Homo sapiens: one gene and its partners. The protein of the gene in region 4 purifies or fractionates together with the protein of the main gene of each other region. This does not show direct contact. Each region holds a gene or a part of one and is shown on either strand. Other genes may lie near its edges.

Region 1 (6,149 bases), on a different chromosome or scaffold from region 4:
TATAATTTCTCCTCTGTGCTTAAATGTTACTCATCCAACTCAAACGTTATAATATAATCCAACATAAATTATTTCTTACTAGCAAAGGTGTTCTTATTTATATTAGTGAGTCCATAATGTTGCTCTATTAATAGTAATACCTACATTTTTAAGTAATCTTCCCTGTCAAGAATGTTTTCTATCCATTTCAAGGTCTAGAGTTTAGCTTCCTCAGAAGGCCTCATTTGGATGTCCAAGCACCAAGCACGTAATAGCATGGAGTACTGGGTGCTTTTTATGGGTGCTGGGCAGGCAGCCATGCCCCACTAACTATGGACATAGGTGAGGCACCTTAGCACAGCACCTAGCATATAACAGGCATTCAAAGAAGTTAATTCTCTCTCCCTAACTTCTTTTTCCTCTGTTTATTTTAGATCTTCAGGCTTCGAGAGGCCCTTGCTTCTTATCACTCAGCAAATCTCAATGCTGTTGTAGACTCTTAAGATTTACAACTCAGGCAAGAAATTACACTCTAGGCCAAGATGCGCAGTCCATTCAGTTCAGCCTATTCTAAACTCGCTTGTTTTGGAAATACTGAAATTGTTGCAGAACAAATAGCCCCAATTTATAAATTGCGTTCCCAAAGTTCATTTTTAAAGTGGGATAAAAACATTTTTCCTAAGAAAACATGATGTCATATTTAAGATCTCAGGCTGTCCCCACAAATGGGGACACTTATGCCACTATCTACCTGGCCTGCGGAACTAGTGGCAGGAGCCTAGATCCAGCCCACGCCTTGTCCACAGCAGGCTCTCGGATATGTGCTGGGCTCAGTTCTGAATTCCTGCAAAGCTGCATCGCTGGCTCCAGAGAAAATGTTGATCCAGCTGAGTCTATGTGTATCTTTCTCCCATCTCGCTGTATGCACCCCTCCCCTCAGCTCCTAGGCCTCTCTTCTGCAGGAGACCAGTGCCCTCATCTTGTCCTGCAAATCCTAAACTTCAGCATCTTACCAAAGCTCCATCTTTTAATGCTTCAAAGGCAATTGCTTCTTCTCTCTGCAAAAATTACCTCAAGCAGCTAATCTCAGCTGTGCATCAGGAAGAATACTGATTATTTCACAATGAAATGTGAACGCCTCATGGCCTTTAACCTGTCCAGAGACCTCTGACTCTTAACTACCCAAACAAATCTAATTTTGTGGAAGGACAATAAAAGGAATGAAATACGTCTACACAGCAGACAAATCCCACTAAGGGCCTGTTTCTGAGACATTTCTGCTTTTCAAAAAGCAACTTCCTTCTCTTCCACCACTTTGAAAACGAACAAATTTTCACAAGTTCCAAAACTTCCGAAAGTTTCCATGACAATGGCAGACATATGTTTATGGTGATGAATGGAGTGCACACAGGGCCAGTGTAAGATAGGTCCTAGCTTCGTCAGTGTTTTTCCCAAAGTGGAATGTAAGCCAAAGCATTCACAATTCAACCCAAAACATCCTCAAACTATCATCATTTCCAAACGGAGAAGCAGAAGCTACAGGTAAGATTCAGATGTTGACAGATTTTCAGTTTTACTCATCCTGGCATGGCCAAAAGGGTACATTAGAGATCACTAAAAGGGGAGGGGAGGAAATGCCACATAGCTCCAATAAACCCTTATGTTTGTGAGGGAGAAAGAACTGGAAATCATATTAACAAATACCACATAAATATGTACAATTATTATGTGCCAAGTATAAATCTTACAATTAAAAAAAGAAATCAACAAATGCATCCTAAATGAGAACAAGAAAGTGGGCAAAGAAAGTAGATATTTTCAGAAAACAGTAAAAAAAAAAACCAACTATACAGGATTCTGCATGTACACTTGTTCACTCTTGCTGCCCTGAGGCATTAATTACTTTAAGAATAAAAACAGAAAACATCAAGTTGGCCAGGGAAAGCAAAAAACCTCGATACTTAATTAGAACACATGCTTGAAGTTGCTGCCTGATATCAGCTTCAAAAAGACAGCAGCCTCATTAAGAAATGGCACAACACCCTTCTGGCGGCAGGCAAAGGCTTAAAATCACGTCAGTGCTGGGGGTCTGAAAGGGGAAATGAAACTGAGTTTACCTACATCAATTAGCAATGCTATTAAGGCTACTTAAGCCACTCCTCCAACAATATTTCTAATACAAATATGCTGCAGGCCTTCAGAATAAAACAAGCCATTATCCCTACCCGTCATCTTGGCTTTCATTACTCCCACCCCAAAGAGTGACACATCAAACAAACAAAGCGCCCTGCCCATGCGCTGGGCCTTTCGGCCAAGATCTCCAAGCCTATGACAAGCGCTTATTAATCCTGACCACACCCAACGAAGAAGAGCTGGCCACTCTAACCTCGTGACTCTCCTGGGGGATCAAGGGGAAAGGACTGAGCTAGTGAACTGAGGGACTAACCCAAGGTCATGGATAAGTTGGAAAAGGGAACTCAGGACTTATGGGCTCTTTATCGCCTCCTCCACAATTTCTCAGTGAGGCCCCAATGGCAAACAGCAAGTAACACTCCAGTTTGCTTTAAGAATAAAAGCATCCTGGGGCACAAGGCCAATACTTTTCATAGGCTGTTCGTAGTAGCCAGTGGACTGAGTCCTATTATGATATTTAATTTCAAAACAACTGTAACAACAATTATATAAAATGGAAAGTTTCTCTATTTATTGCTTAGCCAAGCAACAAACTCCGGACTATGCAGCCACCTGACAATTGTATGTGACTGAGGTGGTTGGCAGGAAAACCCTTCTAAAGCCACAATCACCTAAAGCTTCCTCACTGCCTGGTGGGCCCAACTGCCTAGAGTCTGCAGCCTGAAAGGCACATGTTTGTCTTGGACATGATGACAACGATAAGAAAGAAAAGCAATTATAATACAAGCAGAACATGGCTCTCAAGACCCAGTCACATGATTTTCAAAAGCATTCTGGGGCAGGATAAAATGAAACCCTAATAGTCAGCACCTAATACAGTGTCTTATTCTAAAAGTTACTAAAATTCTTATTGAATAAATAAAAGAAAAAGTAAAAAACAGAGACTGAGAAAGGACAAGAAGATGAACATCACTTCTTTCTACCAGGTCTCTGAGAGAATGCTATACCTAATATTGTAAGGAAAACTAAAGATCAGTCTTCTGTTAACAACTGTCTGAAAAATCACCTATGTTTCTATTGAGTTTTTTTTTTCTTTTTTTTGGGGGGGACAGGGTCTCACTCTGTTGCCTAGGCTGGAGTGCAGTGGCGTGATCTCAGCTCACTGTAACCCCCGTCTCCCGGGTTCAAGCGATTCTCCTGCCTCAACCTCCAGAGTAGCTGGGATTAGAAGCGTGTGCCACCACGCCTGGCTACTTTTTGTATTTTTAGTAGAGACAGGGTTTCACCATGTTGGCCAGGCTGGTCTCAAACTCCTGGCCTCAAGTGACCCACCCGCCGCAGCCTCCCAAAGTGCTGGGATTACAAGTGTGAGCCACCACTTCTGGCCTCTATTCAGTTTCTTGAGCTCCCAGTTTTTAAAGTAATCCAAAGAAAGAAAGAAATACAGGAACTCTAATAATTGAGTGGAGAAGGATCACACTCACAGGGAAGAAGGCAGGGGCAAGGCAGAAAGGACTTAGGAATATGCTGAATTTTTCTTCAAGGGCACAAAAATTCCCATTAGAGTCGCCCACAAGGAGTAACTCTAGCCAATTAGAGTTACTCCAACTGAACTGGAGGCAACTCTTCAATGGGAAAAGCCCAAGACAGAAGAATCTTAACACAGAGTCATATTTACAAGGTGATGATATGAAACAGAGTACTACTAATAATCACTTATATTTAAGAGCCTTTCTCAAAGCCACTCCAACAGTTTGATGGGCATTGTTTCATTACTCCTTACACCTCCTTCAATAGAGGGAGGAGACAGATATCACCTCCACTGTGCAAATGAGGAAATGAGGCAAAGCAAATGAGGAGTCAGACTCAAGGCTGAACAGGCAGGAGTGGCAGAGTGCAACTTAATCTCAATGTTTCACACACTGGACTCTGTGCAAAGGATGGCAACAAAAATGATCTGTTTTGGAGGAGGGGAGAATAAAAAGGGAAGAGGATAGTTTCATAACACCTGAGAATGAAACACATAAAACTGTGAAAAAAAAAAAAATCAGTTGTCAAATCATTAAACTCCTCCCATTTCTCAAATGGCTGGACATAAGGCGCCCAGACCTCACCACCCACCTTTGCTTCATCGTTGATGTCCCATGTGAAGGAAATGGCGTTATACGCAATCTCCTCGATGTTACTGATAGTGTTGAAGCTTTCTTTATAGTCAGCTACAGGAAGCGGTGGAAGAGAAAATGAAAACTCATGAGTCTTAGTTTCAACATGGGATCCCAGCAGTTCAAAATAAGATCTAGTTTTTAGCATTATCACCTCTGGACAATTTAAATTAACATTTTGTTCGATTAGAAGAAGTTCAAAATACGAAGAAAAAGAATCACAGAGTTTTTGTAATAGAGGCAAGCTTAGACATATTTAATTCAATCTCATTATGTCACAATTAGGAAATTTAAGTCTAAAAAGTTTAAATAACAGTCCCAAGGTCACAAAACTACTCTGTAGAACCAAGATTAGAACTGAGTTCTCATTCTCCTGAAAAGGAAACAAGAGCATTACAAAAGGTAAAGAAAAAAAGTAACACTAATATTAAACAGCCATCTGTGATACAGACAATGGTTTTACATGAAAATTACATACATGGCAAGAACAGAGGTCTGTGTAACGCTACTTCAGTAAATACAGATTTGCACAGGTTTGCCACTACAGCCCACAGAGAGGTTAGTTACACGGTTTAGCACGTGACTAGGGAAGACTGTTAGGCAACTGCACAGCAGCAATATCTTTCTTTTACTTGTTTTTTTCTCTACCTCCATCATCTCCAAATAATAATCAGAATCTTTTAAAGAAGATATTACCCCTTAAAGCAATTGCAGACTGAACAGTGGGGACATTCTCAGGTTAGCCAGCTACATGGCTTCTGGCCCTAGTGTCCTGTGGAAAGCCACCACGTGGGCACATGTCCCATTACTGCATGGGAGCAATGGTGAGAGCACTGGTTCCAGGAGGCCGAGGACAGTGTTTGGAACAGATCAGTAGCTGGCATAAAAATTCAAATGCTTTCGGCAGGAAGCTGATCACTGCCAAAAATAATTGGATTTAGAAAACTGGATGGCTGCACCTCTGGGAATAAAAGCGGGCTCTTGAGCTGCTTACCTATGTCAATGCATCTTTGTTTAGCGGTGTGCTGCCGGGAGTGCCAGTACTTCCAATGCCTTAACTGATCTTCTCTGCTTTTGTCTTCAGCAAAAACCACCATGATCACACTCTGTGAAAGAGAATGCATTACAACATAAAGACACTAAAGGGTGAGTATGTTTTGGAAAACGTATTTAGTACTATATTTTACAGTGAAGGCTTAAAGCTGCAATTTCAGGCGGTCATTCAGAGCTGCTTCAGACCTGGAAATGTTAGGCTCTGACTAGCTTTCCTAGAGAACAGGACTAAGAGCAGAACTTACTCGAACTTTGCTGATGGGATGATGGATTCCTTCACTGCTGCTCACCTCCTTCAAGGTGATGGGATAGAACTGGCCTTTGTTCAGGTACGTCATGGTACTGTCTCCTGGCTTCTGTCGAAGTGATTTTGAAGCTTCTAGGGTATATTCAAAGTTGTTCCTAAAGGACAAAAAAAGTCACAGGTCTCTAAATCTACTCTCGTGGAAGCTTGCTATACATCATATTATAAATAGCATTTGCTATCTTTTTCACTTAAAGAAAATCTGAAACAAAAGTACTCAGCAGCTAAAAATTCTCAAGTCTCTCAGAGGTGGAAGTACAAATTGCCGATTAAAAATTCTATGATGTGATGGATGTCAGTAATCGGACATCCTGAGTTTGAGGGCTCGAGATATTAAAGATACTGATAGGTGGAAAGGACTTTGGAAGGAACTTCTCACAAGACATGCTGCCAATCTGATATTTATCCAGCAGAGGTTTCAGACAGGTGGCTGGTGTTCCTCTGACTAAATTCCTTTTGGCCTATATAGCATTTTTTTGTTGTTCCTACTTGTAATTTAAATGTCTTTAATAGGCAGG
Region 2 (6,889 bases), on a different chromosome or scaffold from region 4:
TCCTTCTTAAATACATATTTTCTAACAACAACAAAATACATCTTTCTTAAATTATATTTTATACAATAAAGAATAGCAGTATTGTATCTTTTAAAGTTCTTAGTGGGCATATAACTGTCATTGGAAGTTTTAATTAATTTTTCTTAGAACAAAAATATTCAGCTGGCTCACAGGATTACTAGTGGCGCAAAGTTCACTGGATCCTAAAGCTGCAGCGCCTTTCTTCTAAAATAGGAATGAGATCATTTGCAAGTAAGTAATTTTAAAAAGCAATTTCTGTTAGGAATGTCTCAATGACTTAATTTTTTTTTTTAACAAAAGCATGACTTTAGAACTTTACATAAATTATCCTTACTTTTTCTCATTCTAGACACGTCATGTTTCATTCCTGTAGTGGTAAGGTTTGGGTAGCACCAGTTATTTTTGTATAGAATCTTTTCATTGCTTCAAAAATAAATCATAATTCTTTTTTAAGAGATACAGGCTTTGTGCTGTAAATTAATGTGAGTGCATCTCTGTCCCCCATTATACTAAACATTTTTGCATAGAATATTTGTTCTGCAGGACATTATCAGTAGCTTTCCATTTTACTGCATGTAGATGGACCTGCTGCTTTAATTAATATGTCACTCCCCGAGTGATACAAAGGAATTATTTACCTCGTTTCTAAAACACTAAACTAACTGAGCTCACTTGCAACTTCCGGCACGGTCTGTTTATTTCCATTGCATTTAACAAAATTAAAATTTTGAGGAGATCTGACTCAGGTTGGAGTAATTTGGTTTCCACACCCATTTACCTTTTTATAATTTTTACTTAGTTATCTTAGGAACGATGCTGAGTGCGACCGAGTAATACACAAATGGGGCATTCCTTGACTTAACACGGAACAGAGTGTCTGTTATGCTCCTTGAACAAGCTGCTTCGAATATAATTAAATGAGAAAGAACTTAAAAAAAATAGTTTGCCTAAACTCTCTCAAACAAGCATGTGAGCTGCTCGACCAAGACTCGGCCCCACACAGGGTATTTTGGGCCTCTTGCAAAACATGACCAGGAACTGTGGCAACGTCTGGATTACAATTCTGGATGCTGTGAAAAACACAGGCTTGACAAGAACTTCAATTCTACCACGGGTAAAAAACCTGAATATTTTGCATCTCTAAATAAATTCGAGCAGCAACAAGAGGGATTCAAAGTAGAACTTGTGAATAATTTATCCCATCTTAGGCTTTCAAATATAGGCGATATAGCCCTCCACACGTTTACACTATTAAGTTCAGCATGCTCACATTTCTGAAGTGAAATTAAAAATGAATAGCAGTGCCTCAGCTTGTTAATTGTTAAATACCAGGGGGTTTACTCTATTAATTAAAATATGCTTTAATAAAAGGAGACATCGCACATTTTGATACCGACCCTACAAAGCTGAGAAGTATTTACATTGTTGCATTTTGGGGCGGCTGTGAAAGCCGATTTTAAGCCATTCAGGAGCCACAATAATAAAGCTTTAAAATTCCTCACTGGGACGCAATGTAGTTCTTTTGAAGGAAAGACTGTCTTTCTCATTCGGCAGAAATAAATCCATTCATTTGATCATGTAGTCATTGAGGGCGATACAAAACAAACCAAGTGTGAGAAATTCTATGTGATGAAGTAAACAAAACAAAAAAAAATCCATTTCCATGACAAAAAGATTCTTTGTCCTTAATCTACCCACCATATGCAAGCGTTTCTTTTTAGCATATCGCCTGTTCTCATCTTGGCTGACTTGGCTACACAGATAAGACTCCCTTACCTCCACCGCAACAAAAAGACCCCAGCGAGCTCACTAATTTTATTTAATTCATTAATTCTCCAGCCGCGTCATAAGCATGCTCTCTCGTTCTCATCCGACATGGGTGTCTACCCGCTTTGTCAAACTTTACTCCACTGTGTGGGAAACTCTTCCGCCCCGTTTCCTTTTCGCAGACAGTCTCATTCTCAGAGTAAAAAGATCACCATCTGCCTCCAACAACTTATAACAGGTCAATCATAAAAGTTGGCCTGCCTGTTTTTTTAAGGAGCAAATTATTTTACTGCGAGCTGTGCTGCGGGCTCGGGGTCGTGGGGTCGCCCCTCCTCGGCCCTCTTTCCTGGCGCCCTGGGGGCCCCGCGGGGCGCGCCGAAGCCCGGGCGCCGCCGGCCGAGGTTTTGACTCGACGAAGGGGGTGGGGGCGCCCCAAACTTTGCGGGGCTAAGGCGCCACTCTGGGAAGTCCAGCCCTTTGCCAGTCTCTTAACTTTCGCGGCGCCTGCCCTTTGCTCTTGGATGTTTCGAAGAGGACGCTCCTACCAGCGAAATGACTGCAAAGCCGAGGTCTCCAGCGCCCGGCCTCGGCGGATCCAAAAAGACGGGAGAGAAAAGGCCCGCGCAGACGCTGCAACGAACGCCCCGGAAACACGCCGCGAGCAGGGGCCAGGCCCAGGCCGCCGCCGCTGCGCTCACCCCCAGCTTAATTCCCCGGGCGGCCATTAGGCAGAGCCAAGCCCCCGACCTTCTCCTCGCCTCGCGAGGGATCACAGGCTGCGTCAACGCGCTGGGACACCGCGGGTCACCCGAGGCGGTGCGGGGGCCCGGGAGGGGCCGCGGGCCCCCGAACAAAGCTGGCCGGGCGGCGGGGTCCCCAACCCGCGTCCAGCGGTAGGTGGGCTGCGGTCGCCTTCCCCGCCGCCGCCGGCCTCAGCGTCCTGGCGCAGAGACCCTGGGGGGCGGCGCGGCGGCGGAGGCACCGTGGACTCCCTCCCGCCCCGGCCTCCGAGCCGTCCTCGAGCCGGCCGCGGCCTCGGCGCCCTTCGCGGGCAGCTCCCCGACTCCGAGGAGAGGAGCCAAGTTTACTTCGCCCACAACTCTCTCGGCGGCCGCGCGCGCTCCGGCGAAGTACCCGGGGCCCCGCGGCCGGCCTGGCGCGGGGCGGACGCTTGCCCGCAGGAAGCAGGGAACTTTCTCCCGCTCCCGGACGCGCGCATCCGCTCCCGCCGCACGCGCTTCCCCAGCCCGGACGGGCAGCCCCAGACCCCCCGGCCACCCCGCAGCCCCGGCCCTCACCGTGCTCGGGAGCCCCGTCAGGCGGCAGCAGCTCCTCGTCCGACTTGAGGTGCTGGGGCTTGGCCTGCTTGCGCCGAGACATGCTGCTAGCGGCGCTCGGGCCCCGCGCGGGGCAGCGGCATCAGCGGGGCGGCCGGCGGGGACGGCGCGGGGCGGCCTGGCGGGCGCGCGGCGCGGGGCGCGGGGCGGCGGCGGCTGCGCGGGCCGCGCATGGGGCTGAGCAATTAGGCTGGTGAATAATGCATGGCCATTAGCGGAGGGCCGCGCCGATTGGCCGGGCTCCAGCGGACTCCGGCGGCCTATGCAAATGAGGCCGCGCTCGCAATTAGCGGCCGCGCCGACGAGGAGGGGGCCGCGGCGCCTCGGGACCGGGGCGCGCGCTGCCCGGCGCCGCCTCACATCGCGGGCTCCGGCGCCGCGCTCCTCGGCCGCCCCGGGTGCGGCTGTGGCGGGGCCCGGGTGCGGCGCGGGCCGCGGTGGCCGTCCCTCCGCAGGGCGCAGGCAGCAAACTTTGGCGGCGTCCGCGCGGCGCCGTCTCCGCCGGCGCGCCGGGCTCGCCCCTTTATAGAGTGTCTGCGCCGCCGCCCGCGCCCCCCCCGCCGCCGCCGCCGGGCGGCCCCTCCCGGAGCGAGCGGCCGCGGGCAGGGCTCCGACCCGGCGCCTTTGTCTCGCCCGGGCCGCTCGGGCGCCGCGCCTCCTGTTCCGGGCGCGCGGGGTCGGCCGGCCGCCTTCGCTGCTCCGCCGCGGCTCTCAGCGCCGCTCAGCGCGGCGGGCCCGCCCGGGCTCAGGTGCCCCCCGCTCTCCGGACCTTCTCGCCCGGCCCCGCGTCCCCTCCGCGGGCTTCCCCCGGCGGCCGGCCGGGCTCGGAGGCTCGCGGCCGGAGCGGAGCGGAGTGCGCACGCCGGGGTGGCAGGACTTCGGCAAGACCAACTTTCCGGTTCGGAAGCGGCGCGGGCCGCGCGGCTCCTCCCCTCCTCTCCCTCCCCTGCGTTCCCCCTCCCTTCCACTCCCCCCTCTCCCCGCCCCCCAACCCGCGGGCCCCACCGACTCCGGAGCGCCCGCCCCGCCCGCTGCTGCCACCGGGCCGCCTCGCCCCCGCGCCAGCCCGCCTGGGCCTCTGCGCCGCCGGCGGCTTCTTAAATACAGGAAAGGGAGGGGACCGCAGGGCCCCGGTGTTCCCCACCCTAGTCCCCCTTCACCACGGGCCACCGGGCGCCAGCGGAGTGGGCAGCGAGCGCGACCGAAAGTTCCAACTCCACCAAACTCCCGCGCGCGGCCCACCCTTTCCCGGGATTTCGGGGATGACACGGGGGCCAGGTGAGGGGGCTGCGCACTTCTGGATCGGCCCCACACACTCGGCCCCTGGCGCGGCGCGCTCCCCGCACACGCGCCCGCCCCCTCCCCGCGGTCACACGCACGCGCCCTCGCCCTCGCCCCGCGCGCACAGGCGCGTACTCCCACCCGCGGCCGTGCACCCGCCGCGCTCCTTCCCGCGCGTGTCCTCTCTCCCCGAGCGGCCGCCAGGATGTGCCCCCGGCCCCGTCGTCGCCGCGCCCGCGCCCCTCGCCCCAGTACGTCTTTTTTCGTTTCCTAAATTTCTTATTTTTGTCCTTGCAAGTGGTCCTGTCTGGTGTGAACCGTCAGCACAGATGGCCTCCTGGAGCTTCCCCGAGTCGTTCGCTGGGGGAAGCGGGCGGTGAGCGGCCAGCCCGGGCGCTCCGCAGGCCGCGAGCTCCCGGCAGGGCTGGTGGCGGGGGTCCGCCTGGGGGAGGAATCCCCGCCTGCTCCATCGGACCCGGCCTGGCGCGGCTCGCGGCGCTCGGCGGGCTCCCTTCCATTCTAGAATCTTCCCGCTTGCTTCCCAGCCCGCGTTCTTCCGCCTGCCTTTAATTGTGTAAGTTTGACGAAGTCAGAGCTTTGGGTTCCAGGAAAAGCGCAGGAGGGTCATAGAGGAAGGGAGGGCGCAGGTTGGAGTCAGGTCCAAACAGTCCCTATCGCCACTTTTGAAAAAAAAAAAAAACAACAAAAACCCTTAAGGTTGGTTTTATTTTGCCTTTTGGTAGCGGGCGTATTCATTTAGATTTTTTTTTCAAGACAGGCAAATAAAAGGTGTTTGAAATCTCTAGTTATCCCGTTTAACACACCCATCGATGGCGCTTTTCTAGTTAAGCTACGGGGGAAACGTCTTTATCCCGCAGTTAGGCTGCGAACTTGTGCAGATGCTCAGGCTTTGTGGAGACGCTCCGGCATCTGGCGCAGAGGCGCCCGGCGGGGAAAAGTTTGCAGCCCGGGCTTTGGGGCGCGCGGGGGGCAGGAATTTTTCTGAGAAGAGAGGGGCATAGAGAGGCGGCGCGGGTGGGGAGAGAAAAAAGGAACGCAGGGGGGAGGGGGAAAAGCAGCTTGCAGGATGGGAGTTTCTTGCAGAATTTACAGGATTAAGGAGTTTGGGGAAGTCGCAGAGCTGCAGCGGAAAGGCAGGGGTCTGAGACTACTTTTGAGAAGAGAAACAACGCAAAACGATCGCTGGAGGGCCAGAGCCCTGGTCGAAGGTGCCCTAGCTTTTATGACCTGGTTAATTGTGTCTCCTTTTTATTTTTATTTTTTTCCTTACCACTACTACTACTACTACTTTTATTTTTTTTTAACCGATACACTTTGGAGAGAAGAAGCAGACACAGGTTCCCACGGCGTCTGACGCCTGCGGAGCAAGTCCAGAGCCAGCTGGACTCGCAGCCTCTGGCCCGGCGGCACCAACTCCTCACTGGGTCATTTTGAGCGCGCTGTGCCCACCTTTTCTGTTGCGTAAGGCCCGCTCCCCCTGTCCCGCAACCCTCTCTCCAACAAACCGGCACGATGTCTTTAGGTCTTTCTGGGGCTTCCAAATGCAACTGTTTAATTTCATCGATCTGTTTTGCATTTCCTACAAGGTGTGGACGTGGGGAGGATCTTCTAAGTCCCTCCAACGAAGGCAAGTGTGAGACTCTGGCCCTTTATTTGTAAGAAGCAAGCCTTCAGATTGCAGAAGTGTCGCGCGGGTCGCCGTGCGTTGCGCGAGTGGGAAGATGGAGGAGGCCGGCACGCTGCTTTCGTGGACGCAAGTGAACCGGGCGTGAAGGCAGGGTGCGAGCTCTGCCCTTGGCCCAGCCCTGCGTGGGCGCCGTCCCAGATTCCGGGCGGTGCGGGGTGCAGAGATCTGGAGAGACTTGCGGGCTCCCCAGCGCAGGCTGCTCTGGGATTTCGTTGGAAGATCCGGCAGAGCCTTGGAGGAGAGGGCCCGGGAGGCTGTGTGTGCAGCGGAAACTTGTACGAATGCCCCCACAGCGGAAATGGTGCGCACGAGTAATTTCTGCGGTGCACCCTTTTAAAAATTGACAAGTGAACAAGATCAATTTTTTAAGAAAGCAAAGGTAGAAAACAAAAGGCGTGCGACTTCTTGACTGGCTTGTTCCCGCCTTTCTTCCTTCTCTATACTCAGATCAGAAACTTTTCTTTAATTGCTCTTATTCAGTGCGACAACTTTTAATAAAAGCATTTGCATTTTAAGCCTGAGTTGCAACCATAGATTTATTGCGAAGTGACAACGTGTCTATGGAATATTTTCGCAGATGAGACAGGACATGCGCTCTAGTCGTGCCCAGATTAAAGCGACGCTGGGCCATGTGCCTGTGTAGTGCAGACTCGGAGGGGCACACACATACTCGTCACCACATGACCACTGTCTATTAATATTGTCATACCTAAACACTCGCAAAAACAAAAGTTGCTTTTCTTCCCTGTAATTAAATCTAATTTGTTAATTGTCT
Region 3 (6,170 bases), on a different chromosome or scaffold from region 4:
ATGTGGCGTTTTATGTCCAATAGTAAGAAAGCAAGTCTGAAATCCTGCGATTTAGTTTAAAACCCAAAATCAAGCTGGTATTAAAGACTTCGCATAACAAAATAGTTTTCCTTTTCTCTCTCTGTCACTAATGAGAAATGAGCCAGTGAGAGCAGCCCTTCAGAACTTTCACAAAGGACTGACAAATTCTTGATTGGATGCCATATCGGCCACCCTCTGCTGTTCTATGGCCCTAATTAATACTGGGCTTGGTGACATTTATGTATCAGAGCAGTAAGCTAAACAGGAAACAATTTATGTCACCTAAAGCTTTTTAACAAATCGATGCAACTATTTGTAATTGCTTGTTTCACAAGATTAAAAGTGCTAAGGCCTGATCTTCGCCCACGGATTTGTGGTCAACATGACCTGTGCTTCCGTTGTTTAAAAAAGAAAGAAAGAAAGAAAGAAAGAGTTGGTGATCAGCACTGACTTCCATCAAGTAATCCATATTGCTAATATTTCTGGAATTTTAATGTAGTTACAATTTATAGCCGATCAAATGTGGTTACCTAAATTGCTGTTGCTAGTAGACAGTTTAACTGTCTTTATTAATTACAGTATAATTTAATGTTTGAGTACCGGCACTTGTGTTGGTCATTTTTACAGCTCGAGCAGTTATCTGCCTTATGACGAACCATTTTAGCATTTTCAATGGAAATTTGCTAATATGATGAGTGATAAAAATGTCACACGCTGGTAAATAATGATTATTGCTTTGGCTGAAATTAATTCTTGAAAGGCCGGTTACCTTCAAATTAACATTATAACTTGAAGCTTGTCTTTTTCCCTTCACAATATTTTCAATATAAACCAAAAAAAAAGGACCGTTGATAATTTCAAATGTGTATATATATATATATTTTGGTATTAAGCATTGAATGTCATTTTACAATCAAAGTGGAAATAAGACAACATTGGGTTTTGTTATTTTAAAAAATAAAATACCATTTAAAAATAAATATAAGTAGGTTATATCTAGAGATGGTTTTCTAATCCAAATATTGTCCCACAGTTAAAACCAGTGTTTTTGTATGTAACTTAATTTCCCTCCAACGTGAATTTTGTCTTAAACCTTTCATCAATTCATTAAATGAAGGTTTGAGACACCCAACTTCACATTATTTGAATAAAGAATACTTTTATTTGATTCAACTACAATGAAGATGAAGGATAAATTGTGATTACTACCCTACACATAAATACGTAATATCATCAAAGACAAAAATCTAATAAGAAAGACTAATTATACTTTGTTTTTATCTTTTTTAGTGGGGAGGGAGAGGTGGTTACTATTATGAAGCTGCCTGTGTTGGTGTGAAATTAGTCTTAAGAGTTTTATGTTCTTTATATAAAGGCGCCTATTTATAAGAAGAGCCAATATTTTGGGTTTGCTGCCTCGTTTATGAGAGTGACAAGCCTGAAATAAATATGTAAAAGAGTGTTCCTGCTTGAGAACAATTCCTGAAATATAAGTTAAAATGTACTATGCCTCAACCAGCAAAATCTTCACTAACATATCGTCATACTTGGTTTAGGTCCTCCAGTTTATTAAAAGAAGTATCTGTACATTTTTAAATTTTACTAATGTATAGGCTGTAAGCAGTATTTAGGTTTAAGCCTGGTAATTACAGGAATTTGAATTAACCCTAAGATTATAGTCTCAGTAGCCAGGTGAGAATTAAAGGTTCAAATGTTTTGCTAATTATTGAGACTAAGGGGTTTCTAGATAGGGCATAATTGTTAATTCAAAGAGGACACTAGTTTGCAACTTAATAGCAAAATCTACTTGTTAAAAACACACACACAGACACACACACACAACTTTGCTAATATGGGCTTTTCAAAACAATGCTGGGAAAGAATGTTCACTTGTATCCTCAGCATCGGTGGGTGTTTTGCAGAATAAAGACTGGGAGGTTAATTTTCAAGTCATCCTTTGCCCTGAATTATGTGCTCTGAATTATATATGTAATGGTTTTATGTTACCACGGTTTGGCCACTTAAAATACTGCTTTCATATTGGCAATTTAATTTTTTATTGAAAGGTGATGCTCAAATTCATTAATCCCTAGAATATATACTATAGAGTAATATTAAAAAGAAACAGCACATTTCCTAAATGCATCTAATTATTTTTTTAAAATCTCAAAATTAAGATGGTTTTTCTGGAATATTTAGGTACTGAAGTTCTGTTTTCTTCAATGAATGCAATTATCTAGCATACTTTTGATAGAATATTTTTATAAAATCATTTGTTCTAATCTAAGCATTTATCATTATATGCAAAAAGATTTCTTGATGAGAATATTATAGACGGTGCATGTTTTTGACATTAGCATTTTATTTGGATGACTAATCTTGCAGATGTGAAATTTTAATGAATTATTCATGAAATTGCTTTCCTCTGAAATTTTAGTTTGCTCTTAATGCTAGTTATTAAACATTTTGTTTTTCTTTATAAAATTTGATGAAAAAAATAAGAGTGTGCTTCCTCAAGAGAAAAGATAACATCTCTTGCTCTTTTTTTTTTACTTCCCAATTCTCTAAGTGGATACTTTCACTTGGAAATCCTGAGGATAAGAGCTTCAGCCTTCCCTGATCATGAAAGCTTTAAGATTGATTTTAATTCTGCATTGGAAGCAGCTGGTGATAAACCTAAGGCATATGCCTAACATACAATATCAGCAGGTCAGAAAGGGAAACAAACTTAGGCTGTGGCAACTTTTACTACCAGCGTGAACAACCAGCATTTTTATTGCATTTGAGAATGCTTATAATGTCAGTAATTAGTACTGACTACACAACATTTTTTTTATTGTCTGTATCCGCAGACATGGAATGATGGAATTACAGTTGATGTCAAGGAATGAGTTTCTTTTATGCCTTATCAAAACAAAACAAAACAAAACAAAAAAATTCTTGTTACTGGCAGCACATATACATGAAGCACCATGCTCACAGTCCGGACTGTATCATCTTCATCAAGGCTTATGGGTAGCAGAGATTGCGTGAGCTACACTGGGCCCAAGAAATGCCTTCAGCATTGTAAATCTGATTTTCAGGATAAAGAAGCAAAACTGACTTTGAAGACATCCAGAATTTCAGGAGGCTATGTCATTAACCAAAAGGTACCAAAAAGATTCAAAATCTGAATAAGCACACTCTTCTTTGTGCCTTTGGAAACGGAGTTCAGCTGGAATATGGAAAAGAGAGGAAATATTTTTTAACTCTATTTTTTTTCATGAGGAAAAAAAAGCTAGTGATTTACAGCCTATCTTGGGTTAAGAATCCAAGGTTTTCTTTACTAGGTCTGACTGGATGCTGGGGATGGTGTTAGAGCTGTCCAAAGGTGGCAGGACTGGTGGTAACTCTTCACGTATGTACATAAGCCTTGATATTCCATTTTGTGGCTGGTCCAAGGGGCAGCCTAACTCATCTTACAAGACGGACTCTAGGGACAGGTAGGTTGGATCCTCATTCCTGACAGTGCATTTGTCTGACACACGGGACTACCTCCCTAATGTATGCTTTTCTTTGAGAAAAAAAAAGTAACAGATTTTCTTTACATCTTGGCACCTTGTAAAGTTTTTTTTTTTTTATACAAAAGTTCAATAGTTTTGACACTCCCCATTGTTAATCACTACTTCACTGATAAACTTGGAAAAGTGTGACCCTGGAATTTCATCATGCAAAATATTTACTGCAGCAGGAGAAAACATTTTTTAAACAACATTTTTTTTTCTTTTCAAATGTATGAACTTGTTTAAGATAGCCAGGAAGGCAGTGGTAGGATAAACACAAGGGATAGGAATGTATCAAAAAACAGATTAACACACACGCACGCGCGCACACACACACACACACACACACAAAACCTGTACAAAATGCTCCAATCAATGAGAACAGAAAAAAGAAATCTTCAACTATGTTACAGTTTAAAAGCAGAAAAAAAAAGTTAGGGAGTTTCTCCCTCCCACATGTCAGGAAATGTCATCCAATATTCTTAAAGCAAGGATAACTAAATAAAATACATGTGCAGCATATTCTGCAATTCCGTTACATACAGTAGTTTTTTTTCCAAAGCTATTTTTTTTTAGTATCGTTAATATAAAGCAGTTGCACAAAAAGCAAAGGTGTTTTGACAAACAGGTGTATGCATTTATTCCTTTTTAGGAACAATATCTAAAAAAAGAACCGCCCTCTGCCCTCCCCCAAAAAAGACAAAGATTCACACAGACACATCGGGATATATGTACAACGTAATAAACCCCATCCTAAAGAAGCAACTGGGATAACCCCCAGGGGATACAGAATCAGAATTGTAAAAATCATAGTGAAGTTTGCTTGCTGTAAAGCCTGAGAATTTTTTTTTCAGTTGGTTCTTCTGCAAGGCTGTGATACCTGCAAAGATATGTAAAATCTAATTTTTCTTTTTTTTTTTTTTTTGCTACAGTCTTTAGACTAAGCATGCAAGACATACGACTAAGTGCAACTGAGTGAAATGTTTTTTTTTTAAATTTTAATCATTCCCTAAAGGTTTGAACTGAGGTATGCGTACTAACAGTTTCTCATGCTGTTATCTTTACTCATGTCTAGCTACACATGCTGAGAATGAACTAATCTACCAGATTTTTATCCTCTTTTGAATACCAAACTAACCAGCAACCACTCAGTTTAGAAGCACAGGGCCCCCTTCCCATGACCCTGTCTGGCTACTGCCTGCACATCATGAAGCTGCCTGGAAAAGTTTTTTTTTTTTTTTTTTTTTTTTTTTTTTTTTTTTTTTTTAAAGTCTTGCGTGACCACAGACTGCCCTTTATACAGAAAGCAGAGTGAAGCTTCAAAAGTAACTGCCAGAGAAGTTTTTGTACCAAGCTTATGAGTGGATGGGAGTGTTACTTTTCTTTAAATGAAAAATGCTGACCAAAGCCTAATCGGAAAAAAAGGAAAAATTAAAAATAAAAACAAACTGAAGGATATATGCCAAGATAAACCAAAATTAATACAGTGATCACAGCACAGTTCTTAAACAAAAGTGGCATACAATCTAAAAATATCTCTTTTTCTAGAAATACTATTATGTAATCTAGTTCAATTATGGAAGCTTTTCTGTCCTGACTCTAAACTGTCTCCTTTATTGGATACTCTAATTGCAGTGGCATACATTCATTTTTTTTTTGAGATGGGACTCCCTTCCTTCTGTAGCTCCTTTAATATTGTGTCCTATTTTTATCTGCAGTAGCCCCATAAAATCTCTTTAAGAGAATGAGTTTTGGTCTCTGTAGAGGTACACAAAAAGAAAAAGGAAAAATAACTACTAGAAAAAAGTAACAACTTTGGTTCCATTATCTACTTGGTCTTCTAAATTTACGATGAAGGAGCAGTTCTCTTTCTCAGGTTGCAATAGCCTATCGCTTGTCATTTGCCTCTAAATTCTTTTGCCTCCTTTGATCAACAATAAGAGGATATTTGGCTTCATCAGATAAAGCATAAAACAGAGAACATAATTTACCTTTGTGTAATATCTTTGGTAATTTTAGAAAAAAGGTACAAAGAAAGAATATAAATTAAGCTTCGAAAGGCTCTCGAACTAAAAAAAACTACAGTCCTATATAAATAAATGACAGGAAAGTGGGTGCAGAGCTGAAGTGTGGAGGGGTTCTAAGGACTGAGGTTGTACTGACCTGTAACCATCACATTTCTGCATACCATGTTTGGGACCCCCCCAAAGCCCAGGGCCTACATGATATCTTCTATGAGTTTTTGTGATACTGGGTTGGTGATATAATATTGCATAACAAACTGCAGTACCAAATTTGCATATTTGAAATTAACACTTTAGCATTTGCTGAACTCAGCCCTCGTTAACTCCCTTAACAAGTTCAATCTGAAATCGAATTTGCATTCAAACAGTTTAATGCCACCAAGTAGGTCTGAACTAATGTATAAACTCAGCGCCGCCGCCGCCACCCCTACTTTCAGGGCAGCTGCTCGGGGAAGCCGGTTTTTTTTTTTGGCCATTTTGCAAACAAAACCAACCCACACCCGTTATCGCAGAGCACCCAAGGCCCATGGCAACTTGGTTCCACAAGGGAGAGCCTTCCAAGGCCATATTGTCAGTCTAATTA
Region 4 (6,149 bases):
AAGGATTACCTCCCTGCATGCTTTTCTGCAGAACTGAATCAGATAATAGGTAGTTTCCATGACTTCCAAATTGAATCTCCCAGAAAACTTGCAGAAAACAAAGTAATTGCAGATATGAATAAATGTAAAATCAAAATGCTGCTTTTTTCAGTAAACTTAAAAGTCCGTTGGAAAGGGTCAGCTGTTTGCTTTTTTGTAGTAAACATTTTTAAAAACTTGACTAGTTTTGCATTCCAGAAAATAAAATTAATACCTAAATACTAACTTCTGGAAATTCCTTAACTCTATTTGCCTTGAGTGATGCCGAAGTTGATTAGAATCCCTGGTGAAGTATGCCAAACGTACGCACACTTTATTCACTGGGAGTGTTATTTGAGTAGCTAAGTTATACTTAACAAGCTAGCTTTCCTAATACCCATCTTTTAATCTCCACAAGGGCATAGTGCAAGATGCATTAACACCACCAAACAAATCTTAGTTGCAGCAGAAAATACCAATAATGATTTGGTTTTAATTTAATGTTTAAGCATTCTAATTGGCACTGGATTCCTATGCACATGGAAGGTGCTGTTTTAAGCCCTTTCTGCTTCTCCCCTGCCTTAAAATCATATAAACAAAATATTAGATGAAATTTGCTGAAGTTATATTGCTTAACTTGGGACAAAAATAATGTGACAAAAATTCTCTTTAAAGCTTCTTATTTTGACAATCAATTTTAAATGATGCATCCATTTCAGATGCTTATTTTAAACTAGGAAATGCAATTCCTAATATATTCAACAGAAATGTTATTTCTTTCTCTTTGCACATTTCCATATGTAATGGTTATGTTTCCATCTACTTTTACAGCCAATTATGAAGGAACAAAAGCTATTCTGTTTGTTCACACATTTTCAACAAAATGCATTAAAACTATTATGTCAGCATGTTCTATTAAGCTCTGCATTCAGTGGAAAATACTTTTCAACCAGCTCACATTTATCAAAACATAAAGCCACTTTAAAACACAGTTTTGCTTGGTCAGCTGGGCTTAGACAAATAATGACAGATTCAGAACTAAATAACTAGCAAGGGAAATCAGAAAACTGACTTCATCAATTGTACACATTACAATGTAGTTGCTTCAAATATTTAGCACATCTGTGCTCACGATTAAAAGAGATTTTAATTCTTTATAACTTGCAAACATCTGATATTCTCATAATATACAGAGAAAATAAAAGGAAGGTTACTTTACAGGATTTAGCTGATTATTACTTTCCTGCACTCAAATTCTGCATTTGTGCTGCCTCGAGACTCACTTGAGAATTTTCAAGTTTTTCAATCTAAACATTTTTATATTTAGGATTGTGCTAACTGGATGGAAAATATAGATGTTTAAAAATAAATGCAAATGCCTGCTTGCTTTTAAGAGACTGTGTTAAAAAGTTGTCCATATTTTAGCTTAGGTTTTCACAACATTTTTAATAAGCTGACATTTGATCTCACTGTAGAGTGAACTAATTTAATTTCCTGATGTTTATGAACACCCCCACATCCCCAAAATACTGGTATCTATTTTGATTTATTTCAAAAGCAGGTGTCGCTACACTGCAATAATTCTTAACTTGAAATCTATCTGCATTCGGAACAAAATTCCAAGGAAACAGTCTTTTACTTAAAAAAAAAAAAAGACAAAACATGAGGACTAGTTGGACTCTTTACCAAAGGGAATATTTTAATTTGTAGTAAGATACACACACACACATACACACACATTCTCTCTCTCACACACACATACACACACACACACACACACACACACGTACACACGAACATGTTATAATTAATTTTTCTGATTGTCTGCTATCTTGTATCTCTCTCAGTAATCTGTTACACAAGATTGCAACTGGTGACCCCATTATAGTAAATACAGTTGCCTTGTTCCTTGTACTATGGTGAAAATAACATTCCTGTTCCTTTTCTATGGATTTTGCATACAGATTATTTTGTAAGCAACCCTAGTCAGATAGCAAAATTTAAGAAGCAGTGGTTTTCTAAGTATGTGCACACAAACAGATATTTGGAATTTTCTGGGCCTTTTGTTGGGGGGGCGGGAAGAGTGATCTTATACCTCCACCAAATTTATACTAAAATCCCAGATGCTTTAGTTCCTGTTGTACTATTTAGGTACCTGATGCCTAATTCAAATTTGTCAGTTTTTCATCATCTGAACCAAACTGCAGAGTCGGAAGCAGAAAATTGAAGTGTTCTACCATATCTGTCTACTGAGAAAATAAAAATAAAACTATGTCCCACACAGAAAGGTTTAGCCAGCCAGGAAGGGAAAAAACAAAACAAAAAACAAATGCAACCACCTTACTCTACTAGGTTTAGTTTTCTTTTTTGGAGCTCTTCAGAAAGACACTTCACTGTACTTCCCATTATCTTAAGATTGCATTTACACTCCCTAATAGAATTTCTCATGATAGTGGTTTAGGAGTCCTTAATTTTAACAGCCTGTTCCTTTTTTTATCACAAACATATTTGATTGATTGGTCTTTTTTTTTTTTTTCTTTTTCTTTTTTTTTTTTTCTGCATCGACCTGGGAAAAGTCTGAATCCAAATGGAAAAGTCTGAATCCAACTTAGGATTCCAAAGAAATTTTAAACACTACGACATATGCTGTGCATATTTTCTGTGATGTCTAAAGTTTCCTCTATGTGATATGCCACCAAATGACAAATTTCCTGGTACCCTTCAAGTTCACTCACTGTTCTGACGGGGATTAGAGTATTCTCTTGTGGAAGAATACAAGTGAAATCTCTGAAAAAATAACAACATGGACGAGGCGTTGCTTTTAAAATAGTGATCCAAGCCCACCTAATGTACACAATAAATGAAAGGGGAAAATGTCTTTCCCATGGATGAATCAAACTGAACACTAGATGGGGTTCCAGTTGCAAGGGTTTGTTCAAAAACTTCTTTGTGGCTTTCCTATTGCAGTGACGCGTAAAAAAGAGACTCCTTAAGGCGAGATCTAAACTTTGACTACATAAACATTGGCAAAGGCACAAGAAACTAAATCCCTGTTGTTTGAGGGTAAAACTGAGCTATGGGAACTACCTGTCAATCTTCCCCTTTGGGGGTCTGGCATCTGAGGGTGACAGGGGAATAAGGTTAGGAAAAGACGCCAAGCTGATAAGGTGAAACTAAAATAAACTACTAACTTCCTGCTAAGTGACTAGCAGGATTCAATTTGGGGGTCACTGGGAAGATACTGAAGGACATATTATGATCTGGACCTTGTCACCTTTGCATGGGAGGAGGCTAGCAAAGGTTAAAACAGCTTGACACATCTAGGTTTTCTAAAGCCTGGCACATAAACTTTTTTCTTTTTTGGGGGGAGGGGTGTTAGTTCTTTGGTTAACTTTCCACCTCTTTTGCCAAACTACTTCAGTTTTAATAATCTAAGAATATTTTTGGAATATTCTGGTGCTATCTGCACCAAGAAGTGTCTCAGAAAAACCTAGTTGAGGTTGTAGAAGGAGTTTATTCTAGTTCCTACACAGAGCTTGGCTTTTGACAATTTCAAAAACTTAACCAGTCTGCCTATTTCTGCCCCAGTAAGATCTCCACCATAAAAATGTGGAGTTCTACCTTCTAAAAGGTTCTGTTGGTAAAGACAACTTGCTACCTCCAAAAGTATAAAGAAAACAAATAGAGCCCCCAAAGAAGAACCTATACGTTGGCACTTGTGCCAATGAACTCTAGGGGAAATGTGATGTAAAATAAACCACAAAACATTCAGTATCACATATTCACTTTCACACATACTACCCTCATGCCTAACTAGACTTTGCTCATTTATGTGTTTGTTTTTTAATATTTTACAAAGTATGTGTGGCCTGAAGCAAATCACAAAAAAAACAGTTTGCATTTTCTCATTCAGAATCTTCCATTATGACAAACTTAAAACAGCTCTGATTAAACATGAATTCTTTCCAACTGCCTTATCTTGCAGGTGTTGGTTTTTTTTAAAAAAAGCAATTAATTACAGTTCTCGCTAACCTTTTGGGCCCAGAGATCAATGTGTTGCTATGAAGCTGCTCAAAATGAGCAAATTACTTCGGTTAAATAATAGAATTTCATTATTAATATAAATAAGAGGAATTTTTATGATACTTCATATGATTGTTAGTGTTTTATCTGCAATTCATGGTGTTTCATTCTTCCAATATTATCTTTTCCTTGAAAAAACTGAGCACCAAAATACTTTTTAAATAAATGAATGGAGTCTAAATGGGCCATCCATGTAGAAGTTACAGGAATCTTAAAAACGCCACCAAAGGAAGAACTCCAACACACACACACACACACACACACACACATGCACACATGCACTTACGCACACAAAACACATAACTGAAATCCCAATTTGTAGTAAAGAGCCCACATATAAAATCATTAGATTGTAATATTCCCTTTCCTCAGAATTATTTAACTTGATAAACAGTCTTTCCAGTAGCAGTCATCTTTCTGCAAGTAATTCAAGACTTGTTGAATATCATTTAGGAGACAAGTCATATTTGCCATAATCTTGGTTTCATAAGAAGCAGAAAAATTACCAAGTTTAGAGTGTTTCTGGCATAGCAGCTGTACACTAAAGTAAAATAAAATACCAGCATCCTGAAATCGACCAAATACTCATTTTTGTTTTTGTTTTTGTATTTTGTTTGCATTTGCTTCAGATGAAGCTGTCTGTGTGGCTCCTTAGCATGGTCTGGATTTTCTTTGTAAGCACACACACACTCAAACACACACAGGCAGGACACACAACACCAAGCAGCCCTAGCTGCTTTCAGCTTTGGGAGCTGCTTCTTTAGGGCTCCTGTAACTTAGGTCTACAAACTTTTCTAGGTCTCACTCTGGGTAGAAGTCATACAATCTGAGGTGCTGATAAATGAGAAGTGCATGAACTAGATTTAATTTGGTATGTTTCATATTTCATTTGTCATATTTCAAAGACCATCTCAAGACATAAGAAAAAGTAATCAGAATGTTTGAAAAGGGGCTTGCCTTCTAAAAATATAACAATGTTTCTTTACGTAAAAAACAAAACAAAACAGAAAATCCAGCTACTCCTAGAAGTATGGGTTATATGTGGGGAGAAGAATGAGATTGCTGAACTCACTGCAGAAAAGGTGACTTTTAAAAGGTAACCTTGAGTTATGTCATGAACTTTCAATGCCATTTATTTCAGAACTACTCCCAAATAAAAGAACTGGAGTATGTTAGGCCCTCCTGTATGTCCAGCGTTGGGGGAGGATTACTTGTGTACTAATATTATTACAACACACTAAATCCTGAAACCCTATTACAAAATCTACCCTCTAGGCAACTTCTCCCAAACTTATTGTTCAACCATGTAAAAACAGTCATAACCTAAAACCATTACTACTGAAGAAAAAGAGGAGGGGGTGGGGAGAGGTGAGGAAAGAAGGCTGGGAGGGGGTGTTTCCTAGGGAGCCCCTAACAGTTTACTGCTTCTTTAGGACAATGTACCAGCTTTTGCGAAGAAAAAAGAAAGGAAGGAAGAGAAAGAAATCAAAAGAAGGAGAGAAAAGAGAAAGAAAGGAAACTTGATTGAGTTACTTAACTTACCTCAAAGCTCAAATAAACTAAATTGAAAAAAATAGTACTAATAAAGAATAATGGTAAGAGGTAGTGAACTCCTTTTATATTATTGCTTTATGAGAAGACTTAACTATTAAAAATTCCTGATACTGAAGGCAAAAGGCAAAGATCTTCCACGCATCATTTCTCCTCGAAGGCCGAGACTTTTTTTTTTTAAATGTAGAAAACCAGTACAAATTTACAAAACACACTATATAATGCTCTCTTATCTCTAGTTTGCTTTTTTGTGTACAAACTGTTAACCTGAACAGTTTTCCGGTGCAAAAGGTCTCACCAGAAACTTTAGGAAAGATGAGTGTGACTGCGGGAAGCAGAAGAAACTAAGCTGAGAAAACCCGGAAAAATACTCGGCGCAGCTGCTGCGGCCTTGGGTCATCTCACCTCCATCTACCCCGCGTGCTCGCTTTCGCTTGGGGTGGAAAGCGGGGTTCAGGGGCTCTTTTCAGCGGACTGAGAAATCGCAGAGGCCGTGG
Region 5 (6,149 bases), on a different chromosome or scaffold from region 4:
AATGAATAAGATACAAATGGTACAGTTCTAATTTTTTAAAGTTTCAGAGAAACAAGTCTGATGTACTTTGTTTGAGGATGCAAATTTAGATTATAAAATTATAAAAGCAAGCAAGAAAATGGTTACCATAAAAGGAAGGTGAGTTGTTACCTCCAGGGGGAAGCAGGGTGTGGTTCAAGGGTGCACTGGGCTCTGGGAGCTGGCTGTGTCCTGCTTCTTGACCTGCATGGTGGTCACACGGGCATTCACTTTATAATATTTCACTAAACTGCACATTTGTTTCATGTCCTTTCCTATATCTGTGTTATGTTTTATATATTTTAAGGTTTTTTTAAATAAAGTAGTCATTACAAGGGAAAGAAACAAAACTTTTGTGGACTTTCATAGTTATTTTGATAAAGTTGGCCACAACTTATCTTCCATCATACAAAATGCCAGAAGACAAAAGAATAATATTTGGAGTTTTTAGGTAAAAAGATTAAGATGAAGAAGTGTATGCCCCAAAAGGATGATGTTACTGTGAAACAGCAACATAAAGAAGTTCTTAGGCAAGCAAGAACTACCGGAATATACTATCTTTCCTGAAAAAGATTCCAACTAATCAAGGAATAAGTAAAAATGAAGATTGAGCATAGGAAATGGACTGAGTATTGTAACCTATGTAACTCTCAGTCTAGATAGCAGCTGTTAGTATGGTTAGGAAACATAAATGTCAAAAATAATTCTGGAAAGCAAAAGCATGCATTACTTTTTTTTTTTTTTAAAGACAATAATCTGGATCTAAAAGCCAAAATGTTTTTAAGGCAAAAAGTTAGTGGGGGTAGATGGGCAACAAAAAAGAAATTAAAGCTGGGCACAGTGGCTTACACCTGTAATCCCAGCACTTTGGGAGGCCGAGGTGGGTGGATCACCTGAGATCAGGAGTTTGAGACCTGCCTGGCCAACATGGTGAAACCTGGTCTCTACTAAAAATACAAAATTAGCCGGGCGTGGTGGCAGGTGCCTGTAATCCCAGCTACTCAGGAGGCTGAGGCACAAGAATCACTTGAACCCAGGAGACAGAGGTTGCAGTGAGATGAGATTGTACCACTGCACTCCAGCCTGGGTGACAGAAAAAAAAAAAAAAAAAAGGAAGGAAGGAAGGAATTAAAGTATACTAAATCTCTCATTATTTATGAAAGAACAAATAGACACAACTTTTTTTTTTTTTGAGACAGAGTATCGTTCTGTTGCTCAGGCTGGAGTGCAGTGGTGCAATCTCGGCTCACTGCAAGCTCTGCCTCCCGGGTTCATGCCATTCTCCTGCCTCAGCCTCCCGAGTAGCTGGGACTACAGGTGCCCGCCACCACGCCTGGCTAATTTTTTGTATTTTTAGTACAGACGGGGTTTCACCATATTAGCCAGGATGGCCGATCTCCTGACCTCACGATCTACCCGCCCTGGCCTCCTGAAGTGCTGGGATTACAGGCGTGAGCCACCGCGCCTGGCCAACACAACTATATTTTTTAATGTTAATGAAGACTAGTAGAAAAAAATGGGCAGAAAATTTCCCTTTTATCTAAAGAACAAGGGACTCTTACACTACATTTAAGTTAAGAAAGGGGGTGGAAAAATAGCTTGGAATTTTTTTAATGTAAAATAAAATTTTAGAAGATCTGTGACTGTATCACATATAATAAATGTAAATTGAGTCACAATTGGATTAAAAATCCAATTATGATGCTTAAAATAGACAAAAATCAAAATGACGTAAAAGAAGAAAGCTTAAGAAGAAAGAGAATGAGCATCACACCAGGGAAATGGAAACAGAAAGAAGGCAGGACCAGATTTCTTATCACACAGTAAAATTTAAGACAAAAATAAAAATACAATGAGACAAAGCAGGTCTGGAAATATGGAAGATTCACCCCACAATGGAGAGTCAAGGGTCACAACATTTGTGTCACAGAGGATAACCAGTCATCCCCATTTGCCTGGCACTGTCCCAGCTTTAGCACTGAAAATCCCTCATCCCAGAAAACCCATCAGTCCTGGGCAATCAGGGCCCTGAGTAATACAGCATCAAATATAACTATGTAAAAACATATAAAATATACACAAATACATGTTTATATATATAATTACATAATTATATATCAAATAAATATATAAATATAACTATATTATATGGATTTAAAGGGCATGCTAAAGGACATAGCAAAAGGAAAGCGGTCAAAAATTTCATTTTCTTTTTTTTTTTTTTGGAGATGGAGTTTCATTCTTGTTGCCCAGGCTGGAGTGCAATGGTGTGATCTCGGCTCACTGCAACCTCCGCCTCCCGGGTTCAAGCAATTCTCCTGCCACAGCCTCTGGAATAGCTGGGATTAGAGGCGCCCACCACCACACCCAGCTAATTTTTGTATTTTTAGTAGAGACGAGGTTTCACCATGTTGGCCAGGCTGGTCTGGAACTCCTGACCTCAGGTGATCCACCTGCCTCGGCCTCCCAAAGTGCTGGGATTACAGGCGTGAGCCACCACACCCAGCCAAAAATATCATTTGAGACTAACATCTTTTGTATTCTTTGACAGATCACTTAGGTACAAAGAAAAGTTTAAAATAAATTTGAATAACATAATCAATAAACTCATTTAAATCTATACAACTGAAGTTTAGACTCCACAGAGGATACACTTTCTCTTCATCTCTTTCAGTAACATTGGCAAAGCTTTCCTATGTAGTTTATCTTGGAAGACAGACCGGGATGAAATCTTTACTAAAAGCCTGCCATTCCATGAGTGCTCTTCGAGTTTGGAAGATTTGGTGGTGGTTGTCATTGAAGACAGGCAGTTTTTCATATTATTGCTTTAAAATTCTTTCAGGCTAAAATTGTAGCAGCCAATGTATGTGGAGTCAAATATTGTGGCTGCAATCTCTTCTAAAGATTCAAATTTCTATTCCAAGAATCTGTGTGTGTCCCTGTACATAGTTCAAAATGCTTAAACTATATAAACATCCCTTTTGGCAGAAAAAATTTCTCATGACCTCATGGTTGACCTAAGTCACTTTTATTAAAATGTAACTTAAATATGTATACTCATAAATACCAGTTCTAAACACCTATGCTTTACAGCTTTTATATTATTAAAATGCCAAAACAATGTACAAATACAACTATCCACTTTAAAATATCAAAGTAATAAAATTAATTTATTGCAATAGGTAAGTCTTTCACATGTAACAACTCATTCTTATAATATCACCATGCAATCAATGCCATATATTTATTCCTATATTATTATAGGAAATTGAGCAGGAGAGAGGTTGAATAACTTGCCTAAACTCTCACAGCTAGTAAGTAGAAAAATAATTTTTGAAGTCAGACAGTCTGGTGTCACTTAACCATCAGAACAAATTACCCATCTCATTTTCTTTTCTTTTTTTTTTTGAGTTGGAGTCTCGCTCTGTTGCCCAGGCTGGAGTGCAGTGGTGTGATCTCGGCTCACTGCAACCTCTGCCTCCAGGATTCAAGTGATTCTCCTGCCTCAGCCTCCCGAGTAGCTGAGATTACAGTTGCCCACCACCATGCTCAGCTAATTTTTGTATTTTTAGTAGAGATGGGGTTTCACTATGTTGGTCATGCTGGTCTCGAACTCCTGACCTCAGGTGATCCACCTGCCTCGGCCTCCCAAAGTGCTGGAATTACAGGCGTGAGCCACCGCGCCCGGCCCCATCTCATTTTCTTAGATGTAAGGTACCTATTGGAGAGTTACTAAATATGCATTAAATGAAGATCTAATTCAAATATTGTTAAAATCCACAACAGCAACTTTTCTGTTGTGTTTTTACTACATCTGCTGCTAATAAATTGCTGCAAACTTGATCCATACAAAGATGAACTGGCGTGAGATCTTCAATCCCTGCCAATAGAGCAGTGGTCGCCAGGAGCTGTTCTTTTGGAGTTGGCAAGTTGTGTGTGTCCTGTGTAGACTCACTCTCTCCACTATTCCAACTCCCCTTCCCTTCACCCAGGCTGTGGCTGGAGCCACCAGGCCTGCCCATGGCTCAAATGGAAAGATACAAAGGCAAACGCAGACTCCAGCATCAGTTTCAGCCTTGCCATCAAGATGATCCAGAACACATTTTTACTGCTAATTATTTATGATTATCACTGGAATAGGCCAGGCATAGTGGCTCATGCCTGTAGTCACAGCTACTCAGGAGGGAGAGGTGGGAGGATCGCTTGAGCCCAGGAGGTCCCGGCTACAGGGAACTATGATCATGCCACTGCATTCCAGCCTGGGTAACAGAGCAAGATCCCTACTCAAACAGTCTGGGTGACAGAGCAAGATTCCGCAAAAAAGATTATCACTGGAATAAAACCACTAATGTCAGAGAATACACAGATCTTTCAAAATACGTATATCTTCAGAACCCCAGGGGGCTGAGAGACCTGTGGCATGATATCATTAGCTCATGCTGAGGGCCATTGTGAAAAACAACCCTATGAAACTTGTCCTTGTGTCTGATGAGGAGGTGATCGAAGGCATCATTTCAAACACTATGTCACATTAGGAAAAAGTTCCTTTCTGGTCTCGGAATCAAGAACTGTTGGTTGGGCAAAGTGGCTCACACTTGTAATCCCAGCACTCTGGTAGGCAGAGGCAGGTGGATCGCTTGAGGCCAAGGATTTGAGACCAGCCTGGCCAACATGGCGAAACCCCGTCTCTACTAAAAATGCAAAAATTAGCCGGGCGTGGTGACACGCACCTGTAGTCCCAGCTATTCGGGAGGCTGAGGCGTGAGAATCACTTGAAGCCAGGAGGTGGAGGTTGCAGTGAGCCGAGATCATGCCACTGCGCTCCAGCCTGGGCAACAGAATGAGATTGTGTCTCAAAAAAATATAAAACATAAAAAATAAAAAAGAATTGTTGTGTTTTTATGTTCTGGCCATATAATGTTTTGTGTTTTGTGTTTTTCCCACATAGCTGTTATCACAATTTGTAATTATATATTCATTTGAGAGATTTCTTGATGAGTGTCCATTTCTTGCATTTGTCTTTAAGCGCCCATTAGACACAGACCACGTCTATCTGCTTTATCCCTTTGTTCCCAGTACGTCTTACAGAACCTGGCACGTAGTAAGTCCTCACTGAATGTTTGTTGAGTGAAGAAGTGTGTGAATGAGTTTAACAAATAAATAAAACATATAAGCCATGGGTTCGTCAATTTCTTTTTTGCTTATGCTGCAAGAAAGTTTAGAGCTGTTTTTGTTTCCTGCCCGTAGCCATTGTAGAAGGTCTCATGCTCATGTTTTTGTATCAGCCTCACGCTTAAGACCATTTTATGACTCCACCCTTAGTGTCCTTTTTTCTTTCCCAACTACTTCCAAGTTAGGCTGCCTTGCCATATTTATGAATCCCTGTAAACTATCTTAAATCCCTTGTGGAAGAGGTGGTAATAAATAAATATATCTACTAGTCTTTTTTATATATATTTAAAATCTTAACACTAAACCCACTGCCAGCAAACACATTTGCTCAACTGTTAACCTTAAGAATAGCTGAGATTTGCTAATTCCAACACTATACTAATATTTAAAACAAATTCAATCCAAGCCTAGAAACCACAGCATATCATGTCAGGCATTGTTGTACATTGTGTATATGACAAGCATATTTCTAATAAGGCTAGGCAATTTGGTGGACAAGAAAGAACATAGGGCTTACTACAAAATTCTTATGGATTTTGGATCAAAGAATAATTTATCTTTAGTGGTTTTTCAAAATGTGTTGACATCATACCAATAATGAAAACTTTGCTTTTACTTGTGCCCTATGCAGGGAGGAGTAGGGAAGAAAGGCTGGGCAAGATCCTGATCTATAGGAGAAAAGTCTCTACAGAGAAAAGTTTGATCACATTACACAATTAAAGTAGAACCTTATAAAGTAAAAATATTAAATGGTCTAAACCCCCCTTTTAAGTCTCTAACATATATTATTCATATGCTAATGGAGATATTATTTGCAAGTCTGAAACGTCATAGTTCTCTTCTTTGGTCAGATTCATTTAAAACACTTTTACTTCAAATGCTGACTTGCTATTTTTCTCTTAAAACGGAACATAATTTTCTAATGCCATTAATGAGAACACCCCTCACTGCACAAGTTA

Evidence for each region.
Region 1: the proteins of SALL1 (region 4) and GRHL1 purify together in Homo sapiens (co-immunoprecipitation; one large-scale study listed by IntAct). This does not show direct contact.
Region 2: the proteins of SALL1 (region 4) and SALL3 purify together in Homo sapiens (affinity purification with mass spectrometry; one large-scale study listed by BioGRID and IntAct). This does not show direct contact.
Region 3: the proteins of SALL1 (region 4) and FOXP1 purify together in Homo sapiens (affinity purification with mass spectrometry; one large-scale study listed by BioGRID and IntAct). This does not show direct contact.
Region 5: the proteins of SALL1 (region 4) and ADD2 purify together in Homo sapiens (affinity purification with mass spectrometry; one large-scale study listed by BioGRID and IntAct). This does not show direct contact.

The regions. Positions count from the first base shown.
Region 1 is NC_000002.12:9,963,466-9,969,614, reverse strand, and holds part of GRHL1 (grainyhead-like protein 1 homolog), read right to left. Parts: intron 5,730-6,149; coding exon 5,573-5,729; intron 5,381-5,572; coding exon 5,269-5,380; intron 4,329-5,268; coding exon 4,234-4,328; intron 1-4,233. UniProt on the Homo sapiens protein: Transcription factor involved in epithelial development. Binds directly to the consensus DNA sequence 5'-AACCGGTT-3'.
Region 2 is NC_000018.10:78,976,554-78,983,442, reverse strand, and holds the start of SALL3 (sal-like protein 3), read right to left. Parts: upstream 3,626-6,889; 5' UTR 3,169-3,625; coding exon 3,087-3,168; intron 1-3,086. UniProt on the Homo sapiens protein: Probable transcription factor.
Region 3 is NC_000003.12:70,951,944-70,958,113, forward strand, and holds the end of FOXP1 (forkhead box protein P1), read right to left. Parts: 3' UTR 2,765-6,170; downstream 1-2,764. UniProt on the Homo sapiens protein: Transcriptional repressor. Can act with CTBP1 to synergistically repress transcription but CTPBP1 is not essential. Plays an important role in the specification and differentiation of lung epithelium.
Region 4 is NC_000016.10:51,143,440-51,149,588, forward strand, and holds part of SALL1 (sal-like protein 1), read right to left. Parts: intron 1-6,149. UniProt on the Homo sapiens protein: Transcriptional repressor involved in organogenesis. Plays an essential role in ureteric bud invasion during kidney development.
Region 5 is NC_000002.12:70,760,480-70,766,628, forward strand, and holds part of ADD2 (beta-adducin), read right to left. Parts: intron 1-6,149. UniProt on the Homo sapiens protein: Membrane-cytoskeleton-associated protein that promotes the assembly of the spectrin-actin network. Binds to the erythrocyte membrane receptor SLC2A1/GLUT1 and may therefore provide a link between the spectrin cytoskeleton to the plasma membrane.